Homo sapiens: one gene and its partners. The protein of the gene in region 5 interacts with the protein of the main gene of each other region in a biochemical or structural test. Each region holds a gene or a part of one and is shown on either strand. Other genes may lie near its edges.

Evidence for each region.
Region 1: the proteins of TMEM215 (region 5) and FRMPD1 interact in a test that uses a peptide from one of them, tested with the Homo sapiens proteins (one large-scale study listed by IntAct).
Region 2: the proteins of TMEM215 (region 5) and PDLIM1 interact in a test that uses a peptide from one of them, tested with the Homo sapiens proteins (one large-scale study listed by IntAct).
Region 3: the proteins of TMEM215 (region 5) and PATJ interact in a test that uses a peptide from one of them, tested with the Homo sapiens proteins (one large-scale study listed by IntAct).
Region 4: the proteins of TMEM215 (region 5) and HTRA3 interact in a test that uses a peptide from one of them, tested with the Homo sapiens proteins (one large-scale study listed by IntAct).
Region 6: the proteins of TMEM215 (region 5) and PALS2 interact in a test that uses a peptide from one of them, tested with the Homo sapiens proteins (one large-scale study listed by IntAct).
Region 7: the proteins of TMEM215 (region 5) and DLG5 interact in a test that uses a peptide from one of them, tested with the Homo sapiens proteins (one large-scale study listed by IntAct).

What each region holds. Positions count from the first base shown.
Region 1 is NC_000009.12:37,657,454-37,660,953, forward strand, and holds part of FRMPD1 (FERM and PDZ domain-containing protein 1), read left to right. Parts: intron 1-3,500. UniProt on the Homo sapiens protein: Stabilizes membrane-bound GPSM1, and thereby promotes its interaction with GNAI1.
Region 2 is NC_000010.11:95,288,204-95,292,393, forward strand, and holds the start of PDLIM1 (PDZ and LIM domain protein 1), read right to left. Parts: upstream 2,801-4,190; 5' UTR 2,713-2,800; coding exon 2,617-2,712; intron 1-2,616. UniProt on the Homo sapiens protein: Cytoskeletal protein that may act as an adapter that brings other proteins (like kinases) to the cytoskeleton. Involved in assembly, disassembly and directioning of stress fibers in fibroblasts.
Region 3 is NC_000001.11:62,119,980-62,123,479, reverse strand, and holds part of PATJ (inaD-like protein), read right to left. Parts: intron 2,300-3,500; coding exon 2,185-2,299; intron 460-2,184; coding exon 422-459; intron 1-421.
Region 4 is NC_000004.12:8,290,254-8,293,753, reverse strand, and holds part of HTRA3 (serine protease HTRA3 isoform 1 precursor), read right to left. Parts: intron 2,385-3,500; coding exon 2,190-2,384; intron 1,434-2,189; coding exon 1,401-1,433; intron 1-1,400. UniProt on the Homo sapiens protein: Serine protease that cleaves beta-casein/CSN2 as well as several extracellular matrix (ECM) proteoglycans such as decorin/DCN, biglycan/BGN and fibronectin/FN1.
Region 5 is NC_000009.12:32,782,171-32,786,339, forward strand, and holds the start of TMEM215 (transmembrane protein 215), read left to right. Parts: upstream 1-1,369; 5' UTR 1,370-1,635; intron 1,636-1,955; 5' UTR 1,956-2,013; coding exon 2,014-2,721; 3' UTR 2,722-4,169.
Region 6 is NC_000007.14:24,579,952-24,583,451, forward strand, and holds part of PALS2 (protein PALS2), read left to right. Parts: intron 1-3,500.
Region 7 is NC_000010.11:77,822,256-77,825,755, reverse strand, and holds part of DLG5 (disks large homolog 5), read left to right. Parts: intron 1-1,279; coding exon 1,280-1,372; intron 1,373-3,500. UniProt on the Homo sapiens protein: Acts as a regulator of the Hippo signaling pathway.

The DNA of each region.
Region 1 (3,500 bases), 4.9 Mb from region 5:
CTCTGGCTTTCCCTGGAAAAAGACACCACTCCAGACTGTCCAGGGCTCCCCTGGTACCTGTGAATGTGCTGTTAGTTCCTGGTCTGGTTAGAAGATGATGTCTCTGTGGAGATACATACTTGGCCTCTTTCTTTCTCCCTGGGGTGAGGGACATTTTATGTATAGGAGATGGAAGAATAGACGGTCTCTTTCTCAAGCTCATTCCTGGTTATTTTCAGTACTTAGCTCTTTGCAAAAACTGCGTAATAAGTGTCTTAGTGAGAGTGTGCCTTGTTTATGTGCTGAAAACCTAGATTCACACATATGTTTCCAGATATTTTAGCTACCAGCATAGACCCTCAAACAAGACTGCCAGCTCCGGAGATGATCAAGTACAGCCTTTGTGTGGTGCAGGAATTCCCCTAGCATACCCAGCCTCCCTCTGCTTGGACCTACCAACCCCCACCACCTTCCTATTCCATCCTCAGTTGGCTCTGGTTATTACAAAGTTCTTCATTATTCCAAGCCAAAAATCTTCCTCTCGGCAATGGTTGCCCCATTGGCCCGATCCTGTCCTTTGAAGCCCCACACACAAAAAATCCATTTCTTCTTCCCTATGACAGCTAGTTAGGCCACTTGGACCTTCAAAGACAGGGATCAGGCCCCCACATCTTCACTTCTTTAGGCAGAATGCCCACTTTATCTGGCCCCCTGAAAAGCTAAGAATGGGACACCGCTGTGCAGGTGGGGGTCTGATCAGCCCAGACAGGAGCAAGCCCACTGCAGCCTCACTTCGGAATCTATATTTGCGTTAGCACAGCCTGAGGCCAGTTAGGTCCCGGTGGGTCCCCCTTCTGAGCTGTGCACTGGGCCACTACGGAACTGCATGCACTTTGGCGTCAGAGAGACCCGAGTGTCCTGGCCCAGTGGTTGACGTGGGGTCGGGTGAGTGAGCCCCCTCTCTGGGACTCAGATCCCTCATCTGTCTGACTACTTCTTAGGTGCTGTATTTTTTCCTGTAAATGCTGTAACAAATCACCTCAATCTTGGCTTAAAACAGCAGAACTGTGTCCTTGAACAGTTCTGGAGGCCAGAAGTACAAAATCGAGATGTTGGTAGTGCTGCTGTCCCACTGGAGTCTCTAAGGGGAATCCTTCCTTTGTCACTTCCAGCTTCTGGTGCCCACTGGCATTTCTTGACTTGTGGCTGCATCACTCCAGTCTCTGCCTCCCTGGTCACGTTGCCTCCTCCTGTCTGTTTCAAATCTTTGTTTCACTCTTATAAGGACACTTGTCCTGAGATTTAGGGTCCATCTGGATAATCCAAGGATAAGCACGTCATCTAAAGATCATTAATTTAATTATAGGTGTAAAAATCCTTTTTCCAAATAAGATCACATTTACAGGTTCCTGGGATTGGGACTTGGAATTATTTATTTATTTATTTATTTTTGAGACTGGGTTTGGCTCTGTCACCCAGGCTGGAGTGCAGTGGCATGATCAAGCTCACTGCAGTGCTGATCTCCTGGGCTCAAGTGATCCTCCCACCTCAGCCTTCTAAATTGCTGGGACTATAGGCGCACACCAACTGGCTAATTTTTAAATTTTATTTTTAGTAGAGATGAGGCCTTGCTATGTTGCTCAGACTGATCTCAAACTCCTGAGCTTAAGCAGTCCTCCTGTCCCAGCCTCCCAAAGTGCTGGGATGACGGGTGTGAGCTACTACATCCAGCCAAGACTTGGATATCTTTTTAGGGTGGCCGCCATTCAGCCATTGGCTCTCTACTTTCTCTACTTTTGCAACTCCCTTTTGTTTCTATTGTATTTGAACCCAGCTCTCCAGGGTCACTGGCCTCAGATCCTCAGGCCACATGTCTTCTGTCTCCTCCTTCCTTCAGCATCCTGGCTGCTGCTCTGAAGGGTGCCGGGGCTGTTCCTATCACTCCTGTTGTACAGATGTGGGTGGGGCCCTCAGGGATTAGGCTGCCTAGGAGAAAGCTCAGGTCTTTCTGGTGCATACCCTCATTTCCACCAGCATGCTATGGCGAGTCCAGTGGAGGTTTTGTCAGTGGGAAGGAGAAGCTGTGGCTATTAAAATATTCATTGCCGGTTCTCAGACGTAGGGAAGATCCCACAGTGAATGTGCTCTGGACAAAGAAGGGACACATAGTGGAAGACTTATGTCTTCACATTTTCCCACTAATTTAGACTGAGATTGGCTCACTGAATTTGAGGGAAATTATATTCTCAGTGCCCAAATACTCTGTAAAAAATCAGGAAATGCTCCTTGACAACCCTGTAAGGGCATAGTAGTATCATCTTCTTGCCCTACAACTAGCCTGTTTCAGAAGTTCCATGGTCCTTTAAGTGTGATCTCCAGTCTGCTGCTGGCTTCTGGGCTCTCCAAATGCAACTCCCACTAAAATGTGCTTTTCTCCACAAAGAGAGTGCGCTGCTTTGTTTGCAGTTGACTTTTCAAGCACTAAAAAAAAAAAAAAAAAAACAAAACTGAGGGGCAAGCAGAAGAGCTGCGTCTGGTGAAGCTAGTAGTGGAGCTGAGAGAAAGCAGGGGGAGGGTAGTGGCCTGGGAAGTTCTGGACACTGAGCAGCTCCAGACTCTCCACTCATTGCTGCCCCCAGGATTCCTGTCCGACGGCATCCTCCTAGATGGCTGCTGCACTCATTTCAATGTGCTTTGCTAAGAAAGGCCTGTGTGGGGATAGGGGCTGGGGAGGAGAGGCGGGGAGGGAGGAGAGAGATGAATCAGACAGTCCCTGCCCCACCTGCGGCTGGAAGTAAGTCAGTGCTGGGCAGGGTGCTGTGCTTTGCAGAGACCCTTGGGAGCCTAGCAAGGGCTGGCCATGCCTTGCAGGGAGATCTAGGAGGGCTTCTGGGAGGGACTGGCATTTGAACCGAGCCCTAGTGGGTGACTAGGAGATAAAGAAGAGAAAGATGGATAGAACAGTGTATCCAAAGTTGACCTCAGGTGGCCCCCTTCCTGGTCATCATCCGATGGAGCTGCACTGGAAGAAGCTCAGGTCTTACAGGGACCTTAAGGACCATCTAGTAAGGAAGATATTCAGACTGCACTGCTTAGAGACCTCCGCTTCTCATTTCTCTTAAAGAACAGTGATTTTAAAGTAGGTTTAAACAATGGGTTTAAAGAACAGTGATTTTCCATTTTGACAAGGCTTGTTTGGTATAGCCACTTCAAAATATCCCCACATCAAAATATGATGCTTTATCTGGGATATCTTTTCCAGACTTTGGGAGCCTTCCCTCCTGCACTTTCATTTCTGCAAGGCAATACTCCCCAGACAGTGTGGTCATGGGGTGTTGCTGTGTAACCTTCCCCACTTGACTGTGAGCTTCCTGGGCAGGGACCGAGCCTTGCTGCTCATTCAGTACGGAGCCCAGAAGGAGGCCTGGGGGGTACAGTGTTGACCGATGAAATGAATGAATGCATGGCTATGACTACTTCCTTAGCTGCATCTGGCTCCCAGCTGCCTTCATTGGTCTCTA
Region 2 (4,190 bases), on a different chromosome or scaffold from region 5:
CAAGTACATAAGATTAGCATTATATTAAGAAGCTTTAGCAGTTTAGCAAAAGACTGGAGCCAATACCACAATAATTCATGCAAGAGAAAGCAAACATGGTTATTTAAATAAAAGGCACTCCTCTCCCAGCCTAATTTTATGGTTTGCTTTGGTGTGGAGACTCAAAGTCTATCATATACAAAACTATACCAGCAAATTGCCCAGGATGATAAATAATGTAGCATACCTACCAATCAGAAAGTGTGTACAGCTCTTTGTCAGTGCTCACATTTCCTCACTATCACTATTTACGGAGCACTCTCACATACCTTAACTCACAGCCAAGGGCTGGTGCTATCCCCACTGCAGAGGTTTTTTTTTTTAAGTAGCCTCAGACAGTGGAAGATTCACCCCAGGTACAGCTCAAGCAAGAAGACACTGGACCAGCACCAGATCTCAGATGGCCACACCAGGGTCCCTTTATGACAATGACTTTCCCATTCCCATGAGGTGAACAGGCTCACAATTTTTCCATGTATTAATAAGGAGCTGAAGAGAAACAAATAAATTACTGTCAGCATGAAAATGTTACCTCTTCTGAGTCACTTCCACTTTTCAATTAAAGCACCTGCCAAGGGCATTATAAAGATTAGTTTCCATCACTAGACCATGAACACCTTGAGAATGGAGCTGTGCCCTCTCATTTCTGAGGCGTTTGCACAGTTTCTGGAATATGATACGTGCTCATTAAACACGTGCACACGCCATAAATAAATAATATAAATAATAAATGAGTGAATATATGAAGGTAAAAACCAATGAATTCACAGTGTGGTGTTTTCCACCCCATTCCATCATTCACTCATGCATTAAGACTTTTAAAAGCAGCTAAAGTGAAAGGCAGTAACTGCCCTTTTAACAGATTGCCAATACATCCTCCACTACTTAAAAAAGGGTTTCATGTCATATATAAATCTCAGAAGTGGAGAGGGCTGACAGGTTAATTATAGACACAAAGAACAGGGACAAATGGACTATGAGGTAAGCGAGTTGAAATGTGCAGACACAATGTCCTCCCTGGACAAGCATTTATTAATAAGCCTGCAAGGATTTACCCAGCCCGGCCAGGTACAGGTCTGCTACCAGGCTCGGGGACGATTCTGGGGAAGGCACAGTTCCTGCGCTTGAGGAATTAGGCTGGTGGCTGGAAAGGCAGTGTGTACCTTTGAGAATAATCAGAGGTCTCTGTGGGACGAGGCAAACAGGTGGAAGATAAGGCCCAAAAACTGGCCCGCCTACTCTTTTAGGGGGGTGAGATAGAGAAGACCTCCTCACTGGGCCAGGCCAACCGGGAAAGAAGCATGGGTAGGACTGTGGCTGGCAGACAAGTCAAGAGGAGGCCACCAATTCTTCTCCTGCACCTCCCACCAAACTCCTTCAGCTGCTGGACGCAGGAGCTTGAGTCAAAAGGATCCATAAGGATATTTCCCTTTCTTCTCCACCCTTCCCCCAACCCCAAGTGAAAAAGAAGGATGTTTAGAAAGTCTGGGAGACAAGCTGAAGGGCAGCTTCAGCAGGCAGATGAGCCCAAGAATGGAATGTGCCGCCTACAGGCAAGGAGTGGCCATGGGTGGGGAGAAAGGGGACTTCTTTTTCTCCCTTTCCTCATTCGAGGTACTTACTGAGTCTCTTCTTGGTGCCCAAGCACTGAACGTGACATCTCTTAGTGGGACATCAACCTGTGTTTGGCCAGATTAAATGGCCAAAGCCCAGACCTCTGAACACTGAGTCTGGGTCTCCCTGGGGGTTTCACTTTATTAGGGGGGCAATGGTTCTGGTGGCCCCTGATTCAACGTGAGTCCTTCTAAAGATCCGAAGCCCCTCTTAGATTTCAAGCACCTCAACCCCACCCCAGGTGGACACCCCATCGCAGTATCTACTCATGCCCTGAGAAAAAAGGGCTGGTGCGGGGAGGGGAAAGAGATAATCTGGGAATGCTAGGAAGAATGACGGCGGGGCCACGTTCTGCAGAGGGGAGAATGACCAAGAGGGTTTACTTGAGTTTGTTTGTTGTGTTTATTTCCCGAATCCAGCACATTCTCCAAAAGCCATTCGAGGGGCGAGCCTCGGCCGTGGGTCAAGTCCAAAGAGCGTGTTTCGGTTGTTTTTTTAGGTTAATCCCACTTGCCCCCCACCCCAGTAAACTTCCCACCCACCCCACCTCACTTTCCAGGTCTTTCCTGTTGCGTTCGGCTGCACTGCGATCTGGGAAGAAGGGAGAAGTGCCATCTCCCAGCGCGCGGGATCTGCGGGGACCCTCGTCCCCTCGCTGGTTGACAAAGAACTAACACCCGCCCCGCCGCGCTTCCGGGGCCAAAGAACGAAAACTGCCTTCTTTTTTTCTGGCGGACACGGAGCGCGCCCGCGGCGGGCCGACCAGCCCGGGAGCGCAGCCTCCGCGAAGGGGCGGCGGGGAGCGGCGGGGCCCGGGCGCGCGGAGAGCGCTCAACTAACAGCGCACCTGGACGCGCCCGGCTGCGGTTCCGACTCCGTCCCCGACCGCGCCCGCGGGGCCCCAGTCTCCGCATATCACCTCCCATAGCGCCCCGCTTCCACGCACGTCCCAGCTGCTCTTACCCGGGAAATGGCGAGAGGCTGCTCGAAGTCCTTGCCGCCCACGAGGCGGAAGCCCCACGGCCCCGGGCCCTGGAGGTCTATCTGCTGGGTGGTCATGGCGCGGCTGTGGCGGGCGACGACCCGCGGGGACAGACGGGCAGGACGCGCGGAACAGCTTGCAGGGCACCCCCGGCGGCTGTCGGAGAAAGAGCGGCGCGGCGCGGGCCCGGGGAGCCTGGGGCTGGCGGGGGCAGGGCAACCGCGAGGGCCAGGGCGGGGGCGGCTCCGCCCAGGCCGCGTAGCCGCCCGCCGCCCCGCCCGTCCTCCCGCCCGCAGCCGCTCCCCGCCCTGCGCGCCGGCCTGGGGGCCCTGGCCCGGAGTCCCGCCGAGAGAGCGCGAGTCAGATGCGGGGCCGGGGCTCTCAGCAGCTCTGCCCGGGACCCCACACCGCCTCCCTCCCTCCTGTACGCACGGCCGCACCGCGGCTCTCGGGCCCGGGGCGGGTGCTAGGTGAGAGGGAAGCAGGTCCTGACAGCGAGACAAACTCGCGCCTCGTGCTTTGTAAAACGAGAAATTTGAAGTGCTGTGCCAAGTCAGCCCTCTGAGGTCGGCTCCGACTTCCCATTTGCTTTTTGTAATCGGTAATGATGTTTAAAAGGTGCTTTCGAACGATCTCATTTGATGCTGAGGCAACCGGGACGTTTAGTCCCATTTTACAGATGAAGTAACTGAGTCTGCTCAGTAGGTGAGAAGACTTGCCCGACGCTACACCACTCGTCAGCATCTGGACCACTGCCCGGGCCCAGTGCTGCAGAACCCCATCCTGGAACTTTTATAATGCTAATGAGACCATCACTCAGGTTATAACTGAACTTCAAGGCCTTCCTAGAAATCTTTCCTCCAGGCTGGAGTTCATGGTAGGTTCTGACCTCAACAGTTCAAACCTCAAGTTTGGGGCGGGCCAAGGGCCAAGTCAATGCAAAAGAAGAGCTGAGTCCGGGACCTGGATTCCCAGCCTCCCACCAGCTTCCTAGCCAGGCTCCCCCTGACGCCCTCCCGGTGGAGTGCATTCTCCACGCCGGACCAGACCATTTCTCATGCTGTCCATGGCGTCCCCACCTCACCACCAGTGAAAACCCAGATCCTTACAATGCCTACAAGGCCACCCCTAGAATGGCCCCAACTCCCTCTCTGACCCCAACTCCTCCTGCCCTTTCCTCACCTGCCCCCCAGTCTGCCAGGCTGTGCTCCTTGCTCCTAACTCAGGGCCTTGCCTCAGGGCCCTGTCTGCAATGCTGTTCTCCCAGACATCCCCACCACTCTCTGTCATTTTCTAGGGGCCGGACACGTGGCTCACGCCTGGAATCCCGGCACTTTGGGAGGCTGAGTCAGGAGGATCAGTTGAGCCCAGGAATTCTAGACCAGCCCCAGCAACACGGCAAGACCCTGTCTCTACAAAAAAATTTAAAAAAATAAAAATTAACCAGGTTTGGTGGGGCACACCTGTCCCAGCTTCTAGGGAGACTGAGGTGGGAGGATGGCTTGAGCCGGAGAGGTCAAGGCTGCAGTGAGCTGTGGTCGTGCAACTGTACTCC
Region 3 (3,500 bases), on a different chromosome or scaffold from region 5:
AAAAAAAAAAGAAACTTATAGCACATTCATAAGATGGAGTACTATGAAATCGATAAAAATCATACTATATGCTCTCAAAAAATACTTATTTAGTATGTGCCACATGATACCATTTTTGTTTTATAAAACTTTACATGTACAGGTTAAAAGACTAAGATTGAAAAAATAAATAAATAAAAATAAAACTTACACATAGCACAGAATATAGTGGATGAGATTTGCCAAAAAATTCATAGAGGTCATCTCTGTGCTCTACTGTACTTTTCTAAGTCTATTTATTGATGTTATTTAGACCATATTTTTATCTCAGTAACTTGAAAGAGCACACTCACAATCCAATAAACTGTATTGGGGAAAATGTACATTTAGTGCAAATCCAACACAAACCAGAAAAATACATACAGCAAAATGACTGACTTACCCTGTTTATCTCAACAGTCCTTGGTTCCATATCTGTGCCTATAAAGAAGCAACACAATTAACTTTTTAATATTAAAAAATAATATATTTAGCATATAATATTGCCCCATGAAAAATGGTTTCATTTTCTAGGTCTTTCAAGAGAAGACACTAAAGCAAGCAGGTATTGTACCCTTCCTCAGCATCCAAGCTGGTAGCCAAGTCACCAGGGGCCATGTCCTCTTTTTTTTTTTTTTGACACAGAGTCTCGCTTTGTCACCCAGGCTGGAGTGCAGTGGCACCATCTCAGCTCACTGCAACCTCTGCCTCCCAGATTCAAGCAATTCTTCTGCCTCTGCCTCCAAATAGCTGGGATTACAGGTGCCTGCCACCACGCCCGGCTAATTTTTGTATTTTTAGTAGAGACGGGGTTTCACCATGTTGGCCAGGCTGGTCTCAAACTCTCGACCTCAAGTGATCCACCTGCCTCGGCCTCCCAAAGTGTTGGGATTACAGGCGTGAGCCACCGTGCCCGGCCTGCTGTGTCCTCTATTTTAAAGAAGTGCTCTCTGTTTGAGATCAATGTGGCCATAACCATTTGGTCTGACAAAAGTGGATGGGCTATATAGCAGCAGCTGCCTGGAACATGGTGAGTAAATGCTTGGAGGATGACTCATTTTTGTGTGTGTGTGTGGTTTTTTTTTTTTTTTTTTTTTTAGATGGAGTCTCACTCTGTCGCCCAGGCTGGAGTGCAGTGGTCCGATCTTAGCTCACTGCCATCTCTGCCTCTTGGGTTCAAGCGATTCTCCTGCCTCAGCCTCCCAAGTAGCTGGGATTATAGGCATGTGCCACCATGCCCGGCTAATTTTTGTATTTTTAGTACAGGCGAGGTTTCTCCATGTTGGCCAGGCTGCTCTCAAACTCCTGACCTCAGGTGATCCGCCTGCCTTGGCCTCCCAAAGTGCTAAGATTACAGGCATGAGCCACCGGGCCCGGCTGAGTCATTTGTGTTTCATTGTACATTTTTTTCTACCTTAATCAAAGATAACCCTCCATTCAACAAAAGACTTAAAAGGACCCCTTGTCCCACCCTGCCCCCAAGGATATACACACTTTTTTTTTTCTTTTAACTGGCCCAATTTTCCCATAGAAGGTATACACACTTCTGACCTTTCTCCAGTGACCTGTAATTTATTAATTTTCTCTTTGTAAGTAATTTTATTTTACCATGCACTCCAGCTTTCTGCTTTTCTGTTTTTCAGGTGCTTTGTGTTGTGCCACTGAAGGAATTTCTTTTTTTTTTTCTGGAGACGGAGTCTTGCTCTGTCACCCAGGCTGGAGTGCAGTGGCACGATCTTGGCTCACTGCAACCTCCACCACCCCCGCCAGTTTCAAGCAATTCTCCTGCCTCAGCCTCCTGAGTAGCTGGGACTACAGGCGTATGCCACCACGCCCGGCTAATTTTTTTTTGTATTTTAATAGAGACGGGGTTTCACGGGGTTAGCCAGGATGGTCTCGATCTCCTGACCTCAGGTGATCCGCCCGCCACAGCCGTCCCAAAGTGCTGGGATTACAGGTGTGAGCCACCATGCCTGGCCACCACTGAAGGAATCTCTATGGCTTTCCTACCTTCAGAACATGCCTTTCAGAAAGCTCAGCTTATGTGGCCAAGCTCAAAAAATTAAAAAACATTTATATTAAAGAAGACTGGTTTTTAAAAAACACATTTTTTTTTTTTAATTTGGGTAACAGGATAGTTTTGCTCTGGGTGTGTCCGTGTAATACCTGAATTTTTCTGGGAAGGATCTGAAACTCTTTTTGTGCCAACCAGGTTTTGCAGGCCAGTGATGACAGGAGCGAAGGAGGGATGACAGCTGCTGTGTGCACTCTGCTGACTACCCTGAAAGAAAGACCCAGGGGTCACCTGTGTGCAGACACTGACTTGACCCCCTAAATGCATACTTATCCATTAGTGTGCCAATTACTGATGTCACCATAACCATCTAACAGAAAATCGTGAGGAGGCCAGGAAAGAAAACAAAAATCACCCACACTATTCTCTTACTACCTCAACCCAATCCCATTTAGACATTTCCTCCATTGCTTTCTCCATTATGTGTGCTTTTGTATATGGTTTCAATCACCAAGGTGGAGACCATAGAATCATTTCAGCTGTTCTTGCTCCACATAAAATCAAAACCATTTTCCTAGGTTGCCACATAGTGTTTATGTATATATAGTCAGCTAATGGGCACTATGTTTCATTTGGGGTTACAGTCAACTTTATTACCCAAAATGTATTATGTATTTTGCTAAAACAAGTATAATAAGACCTTGATTAGCAGAAACCTGCCAAAATAGAACCCTCAATTGTGGGGAAAAAAGCACCAAATCTGAAGGGAAAAAGACTTGTTTTAGGGATATATAACATTTTTTTCTCAAAGATTTTCCTAGAATCAGTAATAATTTAGTCCAATCTGCTAGATCTCCATTACCTGTCCCTTTATTCATTTAAATGAATATGTGAGGTTAATACTGTGTAGTCTTTTAAGGCTAGTGGCTGTTCAACAAAAACTGTATACATAGTGAAGGGCCTTTCTTATGTAGACGAAAACATTGCAAATAATGAATATTTTTTTCTACCAAATTATTCTGCATCAAAATTTTAAGCTAAGCCTAAGATCACTGTTATCAGTTCATAAATTATAATTTGGTCCATTTTCTTAACTCTATGATGAAAGTTGTTTAATATTTTAATTCCTAAAATATGAAAACCTTCAAATATATAGAAAAGCTGAAAGAATTATACAATAGACATCCATATAAATAGCACCTAGATTTCACAATGAGTATTTTGCTATATTTCCTTTATCACATAGCCATTTATCTATTCATCACTCATCTTTTTTTAAAAAATTCATTTCAAAGTAAGTTGTAGATCTCAGTATACTTCATAGTGGCTATATACATTTAAAGGAGTGTTTTTATACTTTTCCTTAAAGGATATGATTTAAGTAAATGGTACTATAATAGATAACTAATCAGAACTGAGGAAGTACAGTATATTATAACTTTTGCCTTTAAAAAATTTCAGAAAGGTG
Region 4 (3,500 bases), on a different chromosome or scaffold from region 5:
AGAGGGAGGAACATGGTAAGGCCTGTCGGGGACAGAGACCCTGTCTATCCCTACCTTCCAGAAGTGGGGGGCTGGCAGGTGGGACCAGGGGAGCTCCTTGACCCCCCCATCCCTCTCTTTGGAGACCCTCCAAACCTGCCCTGCCCCCCATGAGGCTGGTACCACTTGGGCAGGATCTGACCTGGCCCCTGGGGACCTCACACTCAGGCACACTCCTGGAAAGGAGCCCCACCCCACAGCCTGGCTTATACCCCTAGCCCTGCCCTCCCTGTCAGGGCCTGGCCAGCTCACCAGGGATCCCTCTGGGGCCTGGGGCAGAGCTTTGGGTCAAGGCACCCTTTGTCCTCCTGGTCCCTGGAAGCTCAGGAGGCAGGAAGAGCATCCGAGTGTGAGATCCAGTAGATTGAGTTCTGTGTCCACCCTCGGCCCTCTGTGCCCATCTCTACTGCCTGGACCATGCGGAGCAGCCTCCTGGGCCTGGCTTTCTGGCCTCCAGCCTAAACCACACACACGAGCTTCCTTGAAACCAGGGCACGGCCTCAGCCCTGCCAAAAGCCTGGGAGACATCTTGGGCACATAGGGTGAAGCCCCATCTGCACACGAGGCCTGAGGCAGCAGGACATGGGCCACCAGCCCCTTTCATTGTCCCCTTGTCTGACCTCCCCCTCCCTAAGCCTCTGAGAGCCTCCTGCAATGCTCATGTTGTGCCTTCTCCCTGGGATTTCTTCTTCCTGTACCCAGTCCTCCTCAATCTCGATGGCTGTTGTATAATGCTCTCACCTCCAGGAAGCCCTCCCTGATCTCACATCAGCTGCCAGGTCTTCCTGCCCAGCGTCCCTCCAGAGCTATCTCATGTGGCTCACATGGTGCTTGGGCTTGTTCACATCTGGACACCTCCCCAGCCATGGATAGGAGCTTCAGGGGTGGGACCGTCCGATCCTTCAGGGCCTAGGAGCTCTGAACTGAGCTTCCTGGTTTATTCTGGAAAAATCTCACCTGGGATGAGGCTGAGCTTGACTTTGAGGCTCAAGACACAACTGGGAAGGGGAGAATGAGGGTGCCCCTGTCATCCTGTGTGTACATCCAGGGCAGGGAGGGCTGAGGTGAGCAGCCCCACACCTGCGTCTCCCTTGCCCCAGCTCCCCTGACAGGCACATGGCCCTGGACTGAGCTGCTGCTCATGGGTGAGTCCTCATTCCTGGTGGCCACTAGCATCCCCGAGGCGCTTGGGGCAGCCTTGGTCTTTCCTCCTTCCAGGCCTCCGGCCCAGCTGCACTCCCGACTGTTGGTGTAAATGTTCTAGGACCATATTGTGGGCCCTGTCCCACCTCAAGGCTGAGCACCCCCATGTGAGAAGAACCCCAGAAACCTGAGAGATTTTGGCTCTAGGGGACACTTACCAGGTTCACCAGTGGTCCCCCGGAGTTCCCGTACTGCAAGGGGAGGAAACAGCATTAGCTGTGCCTGACCCCGCCTGAGGCTTCCTGGAGCCCCTTCTCCAGATCTGCCTCTAACCAGTGCAGAGACACATAAGCAGGTCTCATCCTCAGCAGCATCGAAAGGCCTCAGTGCTGCCCCCATTTCACAGATAAGAAGGCCATGTGGATGGCTGCCTGATGACCGAGGTCTGACTGTCACTGTTCTCTGCACAAACCATACGCTTCGGCATCTACACCCCGGAGGCCAGGCAGCACCGCCTGGTGCATGGAGAATGGGGGTATTACTTCCCATCCTGCTGGCCTGGGGGGGCCCTCTACAAAGACTCGGATTCCAGCCAAGTGCCTGAGCTGCGGCAAAGCTGGATGGACGTGATCTGGGGCATCTGGGTGAAGTGCTTTGTGAATGCTAAACGTGCCACCAACATAATCACAATAATAATGAAAAGCAATGTTGGCCAGGGTGTGTAAGCTGGGCAAAGGTGTTTGCGGGCTGTGGCCATGCCTCTGTTTCTCTGAAAGGCTGCCCGAGCGAGGACAGCAGCCTCTGACTCCCAGCGTGCCTGGCACCCTGGGGTGGAAGTCACAGGGTTAGAGCTCCACCGAATGTAAAGAGAGAACTTTCTAGCAAGTGGATGTGTCGAGTGCCAGAATGGCTCTGGGGAGGGGGGCAAGCCGAGTCAGAGACCACCTCGAGGTTGAGGTCTTGGGCACAGATGGCAGGTGCCCCGGCCTCCTGTCCCTGGGACTCACGTTGATGATGGCATCCGTCTGGATGTAGTCCATGTCGGAGTCCCGGAGGCCCAGCTCCCTGCCCTCCCGCTGGGCAGTGCTGACGATGCCCGTTGTCACTGTGTTCTGTAGGGCGAAGGGACTGCCGATGGCCACCACAAACTCCCCAGGCCGCAGGTCGGCCGAGTGACCCAGCAACAACACAGGGAGCTTTTTCTAGGAGAGAGAAGGAGAAGACACAGAGAGGGAGGCTTAGCCGTCTACCTTCAGCGGGGACCGGAGTCAGATCCTGGCAGGGGGGTCCCAGGGAAGGCATGCACATCTGTGCAAAGCCACCAGGACTGTGAAGGCTCAGGCAGGTCACCAGTGCAGACCAAGACCAGGGCAGTCCTGTGCTGAGACCCAGGGCTGGAGTACACGGAACAGAGGCTCAGCTGTGCCAGGGACCAGAGGTTCCCCCAGGGCAGGCATGGGTGCTCATCATGTGCAGCTGAGCACAGCCTCCAAGGTCGTTGAGCCCAATGATCTGATGGTCACATGGCCTCTAAAAATCTGGTAAAAGCTGCAGACACCTGGTAAAAACTACTACACCATATGCACCACACACAAACTGATGCATTTGATGGAGAGAGATCTGCAGACAACTGGAGCCCAGCTAAGGACTCTGACATCCTTGATCCAGTTCCATCTCATCTCCCAGTAGAGACACACGGGGGAACTCAGGCCTGGAGAAGTGAAGCCACTAGCCGAGCTCCACCCCACGCCGCGCACACTGAGACACCTGCACACCCCTCTTCTGCTTTTGCGCGGGCCCAGCGGAGCCTGTCTGTCTGATTATCTGACTCTGCAACTAGCCTGGCAGCAAGGAGAACAGCCAAGCTCTGTGTTCCAGAAGCTGCGTGGTGCACACTCTGAGAAGGTAATCCCGGGTGCTTGTTAGAAGGTGCCGAAGCGCACACACACACACGATAAATTGGGGAAGGCGGTTCTGTGCTCGTACCCACATCAACTTCCTGGTTCTGGTTTTGCACCCATTACCTAAGATGTCACCGTTGAGGGAAGCTGGCGGAAAGTCTCCTGGGACCTTGTGGCACTACCCTGTAGCTTCCCGTGGATCTGCGATCGGCCAGGTCTCAAGAGCATTGCCCCAACTTAGGAGATCAGTGGGGCAGGACCCCATGCCTCTGACCCTCTGGATGGCTCCCCTCCACCAGGCCACTGGTCCTTCTCATCGTTTCAGTCCTCTTCCCTTTTATTATACACCATCATGTCAAATAAGAAAGTTTCTCTTTGCAGCTTTCAATACGAGGAGAAAGCTGTCAATAATGGGGA
Region 5 (4,169 bases):
AAAAAGTCCTTAGTCTCACAGCCTTTATGATTTGTTTGGCTCCTGTCATACATGATGAAGACACTAATTATGATGACAAATATATATACATATACATGTGTACGTGTGTGCATGTGTGTGTAATTTTTGTACACAGACTATGTACCAAGCATTGTGCTAGGAACTTTACGTTTATTTAATCCTCACAATGTTTCCTCATATATTTGGTATTAATCTCATTTTACAGATAGGACGACTGATTCTCAGAGAGGTTAAGTCACTTGCCCAGGAATATACAGCTAGTTTAACTGGGGAAGGCCTGGATGTGAAAATTCTTTCCAGTAAATCAGTGTCTTGACATGAAAGCATGTACCGCTCATCAACCTGTTCTCCACCGCCCTCCTCTATCCTAAATGGGCAGCCCTGTTGAAGAATCACAGCCAAAGCCAGTCTTGCCCCCCGGGGCCAGAGGAATCCATCTGCCCCTGCCTACCAGAGCGGGAGGAACGCAGGCTCTCAATGCCTGCTTCAGCAAGGGAGGAGAGAATCGCCCAGAGCTGAGCGGCGTCGTAGGGTGGTGGTCCTGACCGGTCAAGGCCCCTTCTCCTCGTGAACTGGGGGCCAGGGAGCCCTTCTCCCTGTCCCCCCGGCACCACAGCGCTGTAGAAGTGAAATCCCGGCTCCAAGGTCACCCTCTCCCGAGCCTGGAGCTGGAAAGCCACGGGGACTCCGGGGACTCCCCCAAGGCCCGGACTAGCCTGGCACCCACCCCTCACCACTAACCCACTCCGCCTGGGCGCTGGTTCTGTGCGCTCCCGCGGCGCAGTCGCTCCGCTGCAAGAGCGCTTTCGCGCGCCGCCACCGCCCAGAGCCGGGACCAAAGCAGTCCTCGGGCACCGGCTCCCCGAGGGACACACACCCCCCCGCGCCCCGAGTCGAGGGGTTGAGAGAAGGGCGGTCGGGGAGCCCCTGGGCCTGCCGTCAGTCACCCGGATTTGTAACTGGAGAAGGGTGCGGGTCCCGGAGGGACATCTCCAGCTGGCACCTAACTCCTCGGATCCCGGACTGGGAGCCCGAGCTCGGATATTGCAACGGCTGCCCCGTGGGCAAACCGACCCTGGTTTCCGACTCCGGCCACTGGCAGCCTCGCGCCCCAGACCCTTCCCGGGCACGGAAGCGGGTCAGGTCGCCCTGCTCAGCCTCCGGAACGGCGGCGGCACAAACCCCGGCCGCTCCCAGCAGCCCCGACGAGACCCCGGGCAGCGCCTGCCGCCGGGTGGCCTCCCTCTGGGGCTGACCCCCTCGCGCCCCCGCGCGTCTGTCTGCGTTTCTGAGCCTGCTCTGACAGTGATGTAACAAGGCCAGGCTCGCGCCGCGTCCCCTCTTTCCCAGACTCAGTGCTCCCTCCTCCTCCCGCGCCCCGCGCTCTGCGCGCTGAGCTGGCGCCGGGCTCCGCTTGCACAGCACCGGGACCGACGGGCACTGCTGGGAGAGCCGCTCTCCCAGGTTCCACCTCCCCGATGCAGAGTCCGTGGGGGAAACCAGGCTTTCCTCCCAGAACCAAGGGAGCGAGCCGAGGGGGCAGCTGCTGTGGGGGCTTCTGAGGAGACAGCCTGGCTTCTTTCCCTACTTCCTGGAGAGGGCAGGAAACCTCAGGTACCTCGTTGACCCCAGCCGGAGCGTGTTGATATGAGAGAGAGACGGAGGTTGCAATAGTGAGAGGAAGAGAGGGAGGGCACAAGAAAGGGAGGGAGGGAGAGGGGACGGAGAGAAAGAGTAGAAATAGAAACAGGGAGAGATTGCAAGAGAAACGCAGAGAGAGAGATAGAGAGATTGCAAGAGAGATACAGAGACAGAGATCAAGACTGAAAGTCAAGAAGCAAGTCGGAGACAAAGGGCAAGAGAAAGACAAGAGTTGATGGGTGGGAGCTTGACTTGGATTTTTTTTTAACGCACTGTGGTTTCATCTCTGACAGAATAGAGGAACGCTGCTCCCTGGTCAGCAAGCAGCCCCCAACCTGGATGGAGTGAAACATGCGGCCTGATGACATTAACCCGAGGACTGGGCTGGTGGTGGCCCTGGTCAGTGTCTTCCTCGTCTTTGGTTTCATGTTCACCGTCTCTGGGATGAAAGGGGAGACTTTGGGAAACATCCCCCTCCTGGCCATCGGGCCAGCCATCTGCCTACCAGGCATCGCAGCCATTGCCCTGGCCAGGAAAACCGAGGGATGCACCAAGTGGCCAGAGAACGAGCTGCTGTGGGTCCGCAAATTGCCCTGCTTCCGGAAACCCAAAGACAAGGAGGTGGTAGAGCTGCTGAGGACCCCTTCAGACCTAGAATCCGGCAAGGGGAGCTCAGATGAGCTGGCTAAGAAGGCGGGCCTCAGGGGGAAGCCTCCCCCACAAAGCCAGGGTGAGGTGTCCGTGGCCAGCTCCATCAACAGCCCCACACCCACGGAGGAAGGAGAATGCCAGAGCCTCGTCCAGAATGGGCATCAGGAGGAGACGTCCAGATACCTGGACGGCTACTGCCCCTCGGGCAGTTCCCTCACCTACAGTGCCTTGGACGTCAAGTGCTCAGCAAGGGACAGATCTGAGTGCCCTGAGCCTGAGGATAGCATCTTCTTTGTGCCCCAGGACAGTATCATCGTTTGCTCCTACAAGCAGAACAGCCCGTATGACAGATACTGTTGTTATATCAATCAGATACAAGGCAGGTGGGACCACGAGACCATCGTCTAATCTCTGCCTACAAAGGTGGCTGGATTGATAGAATATGACTAAGCCCAGCTCCCCGTGGAAGCAAATTGCTCTGCTTGGAGAGCCTTCACACTGTTAGAAATTGACCTGGTATGTGATGGGTGTGATAACCTCTGGTACCCGAGAGTCATGTAAATAGGCATGTTGGGGACACATTTTAGGGAAGGGCGATGAGGGTTAAGGACACTGGAAGAGGCAGTGGGTAGGAAAGGAAGCTACTCCAGTTGCTTCTTAACAATTTACACAATGTTAAATGTTTTGTAAAATAACCCAAAAAGTGCTATCCAGAACCAGCTGAGAGCAAGATAAATCTAGAGTGGGCTGCAGATGTGAGGCATCAAATGATGCATGAGCTGACCACAGGGAAACTGAGCTGCTTTATGTTTGAATAAGTTGAAAATAAAATTAATGATCCGTTATATAAAGTAATTTTTGCCTGGTTAAAAGCTTATCACACTTGGTATTTGCTGAAAGAAAAAAAAATCAAGATACAAGAGTTAAACCCTCCTTAGATGGGATGGTTTTTGGGAAAAGGGTAGTTAAAGAGAGTTGGATTATGTAACTGAGTCTTGTGGCATTATTGTCTGACAAGATCATGGTCTCTAATAAAGTAAAATAAGTGTGAGCAGCTATGTGAAAAGTTAACATTTTTAGATGGCTATGTTACTTCTTAAACTCTTCGTTTAAATCCATTTATTGCATCTTTATCTGAAATGGGTTTTTTCTAAACATTTACTATCATTCATGTATTATTTCCTTACCAGGTGCAACATTATTTGAAATGATACTTTCATAGATTGGAATTTGTTTTCATCAAGACAAAATGAATTTTACATATATATCCAAGTCTTTAACATTGGCAGACATGTACTGATAATTACCATTCCTACATACCTTTTAAAATCTGAAAACTATAAAGTCTACACATTAGCCTTGAACATTGCACATAATTTGTATGAAATGCAATGGTTAAACCTTTGGAAGTGTCATTATTTGTACATTTGTTCAACTCCTCTCACAGACTGTAAATGCCAGTGAAACAAGAACTCATCTACTAAATTTAACTGAAGCCTAGATTTTATTAAGCTCACCTGATCAGTGAACATTACATGATAAAAGTCTCTTTATTTCATACATTTTTGCTGCTGAGGAAAACAACAAATCACAATGATATCCTAAAATGTGCTTTCTATTTCACTTGCTCAACTGCAATAGATAAGAAGGCTATCAAGCAGAATGCCATTTGATCCCCGGTGAAGAAAAATATGAATTATATATAGGAATGGTGATAGAGTTCATCTTGAAGATCAGAAGTATTTTGTATCCTTCAAAGAATGATCATTTTAAGTGATCATATAGTCTTAGTCACTTTCTCCCAAAAGGGGAATTGAGGACAAAAATTTGGGCATATATGTTTTGTGTATTTCAAT
Region 6 (3,500 bases), on a different chromosome or scaffold from region 5:
ATAGGGCAGCTGGAGATATGTGGGACTTTTAAAGAAAAATGTATGAGAAAGTGTGGGGAAAATGATTCTCTGAGCAGACTGGGGGCCATATGCTTAGGAAAGGAAAAGTGAAAGGTGAGGGATTCGTTTAGAGAAATTCTGTGGTGGAACTCAGAGGGGTACATGTTGGGAGAAGTTTTAACTTAGGAAAATACTAAGCTGATTTACTTAAATGCATATTTCAAGGATAAATACTTTATATTTTGTTCTGTAGGTCATTTTTACCATGAAGTGACTCTGGCAGGGATTCTTTACCTAAGTGGGCATCAGAATCCTTTGGAGCTATCCTACGCTAAAGGATTCTAATTTAGTAGGTCTGGTATGGGGCAGGAGCATGTTTATATTGTTAAAATCCCCAGGAGCCACCATTTGAGTGTAAAATAATACATCCTGTGGAATATTCCATTTTAATAATGAAATCATTCAACAAAGCTTTTGAGGTTGTATATAATTTAGGTAACTCTAATGCTGGAACTTGGTCTCTCACCAGGTCAATACTTCTGCACATACCTCATTGATCCCCATTGCTTTACTCTCTTGCATACTCTTCCCTCCTCTGCCTTCTTGTTTCTTTTCTACTAATGAATATTCAGGCATGGTTCTCCAAGGAAGCCATCATTAGGTGGCCTCATCCATAATTTATCTTTTCAGTACAGAACAAATTATAACACAGTGCTTATACAACTGGCAAGTACACTCATCACATGAGTAGATGATTTATGTGTTTTCGTTCACATGAGCCTTGAACAAATATACCCAGTTTTACTAGTTGAGCTTCCTTGTTTTTTCTTCTTGCTATCAAGAGGTTGGCGTTTAGTCATAGTTAATGCTGATGTAAACATTTGATAATATTATAGATACCACCATGTTTCAAGGTCTATGTTAAATGCTCTCCACACATTATCTCATCTGCTTGTTGCAGATTTTAAAATTATGTTTTTTAAGTCACTAAAATCTTTTTATGATTGTATTAGTTTTCTGTGACTGCTGTGACAAATTGCCACAGACTTAGTGGCTTATAAATAAATGTATTCTCTTACGATTCTGAAGGCCAGACATTTGAAATCAGTATAATTGGGCCAAAATCAAGGTGTCAACAGGGACATTTTTCCTCCAAAGAATCTAAGGGAGAACTTACTTGTTGCCTTTTCCAGTTTCTGGTGGCTTCTGGCATTCCTTGGCTTGCGGCTACACACTGCAGTCTTCAAGGCTGGCATTTGAAATCTTTCAGCTCTGTGTCTTTCATTTCCCCACGTGTGTGTGTGTGTGTGTGTGTGTGTGTGTGTGTGTGTGTGTGTGTCAGAGAGAAAGGGAAATCTCCCTCTGTGAAGGACACTTGTGAAGGCATTTAGTGCTCTCTGGAATAACCTCCCCATCACAAGATCTTTAATCACACCTGTGAAACTTTCCAAATGCGGTGACATTCATAGGTGTCAGGAATTAAGACATAGATATCTTGTGGAGGGGGAGACTATTATTCAGCCTACCATAATGGTAATTTAAATAGTTCAGAAAAGGGAGGAGGAGTTGATAAGTCTTTTTGTCCCATCTTCATCACTTTCTAAGTCAGTATTTCTCAATCAGGGATGATTTTGCTGAACAATCTCCAGGAATATTTGGCTGTCACAACTGGGAAGGTGTTGCTACTACTATGTATAAGGTATAGGTCAGGGATGCTGCAAACAGTGCACAGGGCAGCCCCCCTCAACAAGGAGTCATCCAGCCCAAAATGTCAGTAGTGATGAAGCCGAGAAACGTTATTCTAAAGGCAACTATTGCCAATAGCTTTTTTGGGGTATCCAGAAAAAATTTTGATGCCTCTATTACGAGTAAAAGCCTTTAATCTGATTTGATCAGAACGGGTGGTAGTTTTGGCTGACTGAAAGTGATTTAAGTGAAGAGTCATAAACGATTGACACATATCTTAAATAATATATTACTTAAAAATCTACATTCATGTGTCAGTCTTTTCTTTAAGTATGTGTCTTTTGCCAGGAACTCTGGGTCATCATTCTTATATAAGCCAATGCATTATCACTGATTACCAGCTTTGGAGTGAGAACTTAAAAGTTTGTGAAGCAGTCTGCATATAAGATCTAGATTTCTAATGTTTTATGACTCCTCAATTGTTTATACTTGTTTTACCCTTAATTTTACAGCAGTTTATCATTTTGTTTTGTTGTTTTGTCACTTGCTTTTTTGGGGTCTTCCCAAAGCATCAACTGATTTTCATATAAAGAATATAACTCCCATCATCTTGTATCAAATACAGCATATGATGCATATAAAGAAAATGAAATCCTATTTTGTAATAATGGCTTGCTAAGGAATTGGGAATACTAATTCTAGTCGCAGCTCATTTGAACAGCATCCAATCTGGTGATATGGTGAGGGCTAATGTCAGTTGTTTACAAATTCTTGAATGTTTCAGAACATTTTGTTTTAGTTCTGTAATGGCAGAGTTTATAAATAATCTATAGAATATTACTATAAATACTTTATTGGTATTACCAGCTTAGTGCTTGCGTTACTTTTCTAAAAGAAACATTGATTTTTTTTTCATTAACTGTAATAAATATTATTTGAAGTTTGAATGTGGCTATCTTTGAGTGGATTTGTCTTCTTTTTATTTACTAGAATATGTATGTCTATATGCACATAATAAAATGTTATATGGAAAACCTAACTTTAGTTACATAAATAAAAAATTATTTGCTTTTTTTATTCCTCTTTTAATATCCTTCTATCTTCTATCCTTGTATAAGGAGCTAGAAGGTATAAGAAACTCCAATAATTGGGTTTCTTATAAAGAGCTTTGATATAAGAAACTCAGATAATTGAGTAAAGAAGTTTAATTTATTAAAGTTGCTTATTTTTGAAATGATAGTCATGCTTTTTTTTTTTTTTTTTTTTTTTTTTGAGACAGAGTCTTGCTCTGTCACCCAGGCTGCTAGAGTGCAGTGGCGTGATCTCGGCTCACTGCAACCTCTGCCTCCCGGATTCAAGTGATTCTCCTGCCTCAGCTTCCTGAGTGGCTGGGATTACAGATGTGTGCCACCACGCCCAGCTAATTTTTGTATTTTTAGTAGAGAGGGTTTCACCATGTTGGCCAGGATGGTCCTGAACTCCTGACCTCGTGATCTGCCTGCCTTGGCCTCCCAAAGTGCTGGGATTACAAGCGTGAGCCACCGTGCCTGGAAATCATTCATATTTTTATACAAATCAATTTAAATGTTTTTTATTTTTTAGCTAGTAATCTTTTGGAATGGAGGTCAGTAAAAAAAAATGTAAGCCCTATTTTTAAAAGGTTGGACTATCTTGTGAGACAAAGTAGTCTCAGTTTGCCATCACCAACCAATCCTTAGCATTAAGCTCTTGAAAACAACTAGGTAGAGAAATTTTCCGTGAAGGAATTTAATGATCTTTATAAAGTTTTACTATTCACCCAATTAAAATGTTAG
Region 7 (3,500 bases), on a different chromosome or scaffold from region 5:
ATGAAACCCCATCTCTACTAAAATACAAAAATATTAGCCGGGCATGGAGGCATACATCTGTAATCCCAGCTACTCGGGAGACTGAGATAGGAGAATTGCTTGAACCTGGGAGGCGGAGGTTGCAGCGAGCCGAGATCATGCCTCTGCACTTCAGCCTGAGGGACAGAGCGAGACTCCATCTCAAAAAAAAAAAAGAAAACTTGACTTTGAAATGATTATAGATTCATAGGAAGCTGCAGAGATAGTACAGGGGGGTCCTATGTACTCTTCTCCCTGCTTCCCCTCATGGTTGCACCTTGCATGAGTATAATATCAAAGCTAGCATATTGACATTGGTACTGTGTGTGTGTGTGTGTGTGTGTGTGTGTGTGTGTGTGTGTGGTTGTGTGTGGTTAAACACATGTTGTTCTGTGTAACCACCACCGTAATGAAGATACGTAGCTGTTCTATCAGCACTGAGGTCTCCCTCCCACTGCCCATTTGTAGTAACACCCCCTGCTCCCTCCCATCCCTGCCCCCTGGCAGCTGATTTTTTCTCCATCTCTGTGATGTTGTCCTTTTGAGAATGTTACAGACATGGAATCATATAGTATGTGACCTTTGGAGCTGGGCTGTTTTGATTCCGCACCATGCCTGCAAGATCCACCCAAGAGGCTGCGTGTGCTGGCTGCTTGTTACTTATCGTTGCTGAGCAGTGTTCTGCAATGTGGGTGTATCACAGTTTGGTCATTCACCGGTTGCACATATACTTCTTAAGAAGGTCTGCACATAGCTGTGAGCAGAGATTCCGGGAGCAGGGTTGAGAGGTTCTTTGTGAACACTCACAGGGCCCCACTTCGCGTGGTACTTTCTCTACAAGGCCTTTCCTATCCATGGTCTTGTTTTTAGTCCCCCGCTCTCCCGAGCCACATGCATGTATTTATCTTCCATTTCCTCTGTGGAGGCAAGGAGCTGGGAAGTTCTGAGCCAAGGTCCCACGCCACATGGCCGGGCACAGCAGTGCCAAGATGTTCCCTCCGGGTCCTCGGTGTTCTGATCCCAGAAGGACATGCTCCTCCCCTAGCCTGCTGTGAAGGCTTATGTGTTCCTCTACCTCAGAATCCCCTTAGTTGGACTCCTTGGGCCTCACCAGAAAGACCTCTATCCTTTGCCAACTCCTGACTTTGGCACCTTGCATTTGGTGACTGTCTAGCACAGGAGGTTAGGTAGGCAGAGATCCTGACTGGTAGGCCTGAGGCCGCTCTGCCTGTGGCCTGACATGCTCTCTGTCCTGCTCTAGATCAATGGCATTGCACTGGACAACAAGTCTCTGAATGAATGTGAATCTCTGCTGCGCAGCTGCCAGGACTCCCTGACCCTGTCCCTCCTGAAGGTAAGGGCTGGACCTGGCTCTGCTCTCACGGTCAGGAGTATGGGCAGAGCCCCGGCTCCACATAGCCATGCTACTCCTTGGGGTCACAGGATCCTTGAGAACAGGGTGGGCATTTACTGAGTGCAGAGGGGGCAGGAACCCTGACTGGACGCTGGTCTGAAATCAAAAAACAGCAGTCAAGGCCATGTTGGGCACAGTTGGGTACATTTGAATCTGGACCCGATAATTAGATGATCTTAGGGAATTGTTGCCAGTTTTCCTAGGTATGATGATGGCATTGGGGTTGTTATACAGGAGAATGGCTTTATTTGGGGGAGGTACAAGCTAAAGTTGTTAGAAGTGATGTGTCATGGCCGGGCATGGTTGCTCATGCCTGTAACCCCAACACTTTGGGAGGCCAAGGCAGTCGAATCACTTGAGCCCAGCAACACAGCGAGACCTTGCCTCTACAGAAAATACAAAAAGCCTGGGAGGTCGAGGTGGCAGTGAGTTGTGATTGTGCCACTGCACTCCAGCCTGGGTGACAAAGTGAGACCCTATCTCAAAAATGAAAGGAAGAAGCTGGGTGCAATGGCTCATGCCTGTAATCCCAGCACTTTGGGAGGCGGGTGGATCACCTGAGGTCGGGAGTTCGAGACCAGCCTTGACCAACATGGAGAAACCCCGTCTCTACTAAAAATACAAAAATAGCCGGATGTGATGGTGCATTCCTGTAATCCCAGCTACTCAGGAGACTGAGGCAGGAGAATCGCTTGAACCCAGGAGGCGGAGGTTGCAGTGAGCTGAGATCACGCCTTTGCACTCCAGCCTGGGCAATAAGAGCGAACCTCTGTCTCAAAAAAAAAAAAAAAAAGGAAGGGAAGTGACATGTCATGATATTTGTAACTTGCTTTCCAGTGTTCTGTAGTATCATTATAGACAAAAAGACAATTTAGTGAAATATTTTTGAATCTAGATGGTACATTTATGGACATTTATTATACTTTTCTACATATTTGAAAAGTTTAATAATAGGAAGTTAGAAAAAATAGGCCGAATTTAGAAAACATCTCTTAATGAAATGGCTGGGCCTATTTTTTCTAACTTTCTATTAAGAGATGTTTTCTAAATTAACTATTTTCAAATTATTTGACTTTTTTGGAAGCAGTTTTATGTTTACAGAAAAGTTGGGCTGATACAGAATTCTTAGCACTCTCTCAACCACCCCATCACCACCATCCCCACTCCTGTCCCCAAGTTTCCCCAATTTTGGCATTTTGCGTTAGTGTAGTTAGTACATGCGTTATAATTAGTGAGCCAATGTGGATGCATTAGTATTAACTATAATGCATAGTTTACATTAAGGTTCAGTCTTGGTGTATTTTCTGTGAGTTTTGATGCAGGTGATGACATGTACTACCATTGTAATATCATACAGAGTAGTTTCACTGCTCTAAAAATTCCCTATGCTCCCCATATTTATGCAAGCCCCTGGCAACAACTGATCCTTTTACTGCCTCCATGCTTTTGTGTTTTCCAGAATGCCATAGAGTTGGAATCACAGAGTGTATAGAATGGCTTCTTCATTTGCTAATATACACTTAAGGTTCCTGCACGTTGTTTCAGTTCTTTTTAGTGCTAATTTATATTCCGTTGTCTGGGTGTACCACAAGAGATATATTTTTAACAATGAATTTTTACTTTTATGTTTAATATTTAAAAAAAATATTCAAGACATTATGCAGGTAATTTCCTTCTTTTTGAGACAGAGTCTCATTGTGTCGCCCAGACTGGAGTGCAGTGGCGTGATCTTAGTTCACTGCAACCTCCACCTCCGGGTTCAAGCGATTCTCCTGCCTCAGCCTCCCAAGTAGCTGGGACTACAGGTGCATGCCACCGTGCCTGGCTTATTTTTGTAATTTTTGTATAGATGGGGTTTCACCATATCGGTCAGGCTGGTCTCGAACTCCTGACCTCGTGACCCGCCTGCCTCAGCCTACCAAAGCGCTGGGATTACAGGCATGAGCCACTGTGCCCGGCCCAGATAATTTCAGAAAGTGTTCAAAGTTAAGAAAACTTTGACTCTTCTTTGAGTTCAGAGTGACCAGAGCCATGAGAAAACTTATCCATTAGGGAGAAGCATATGTGT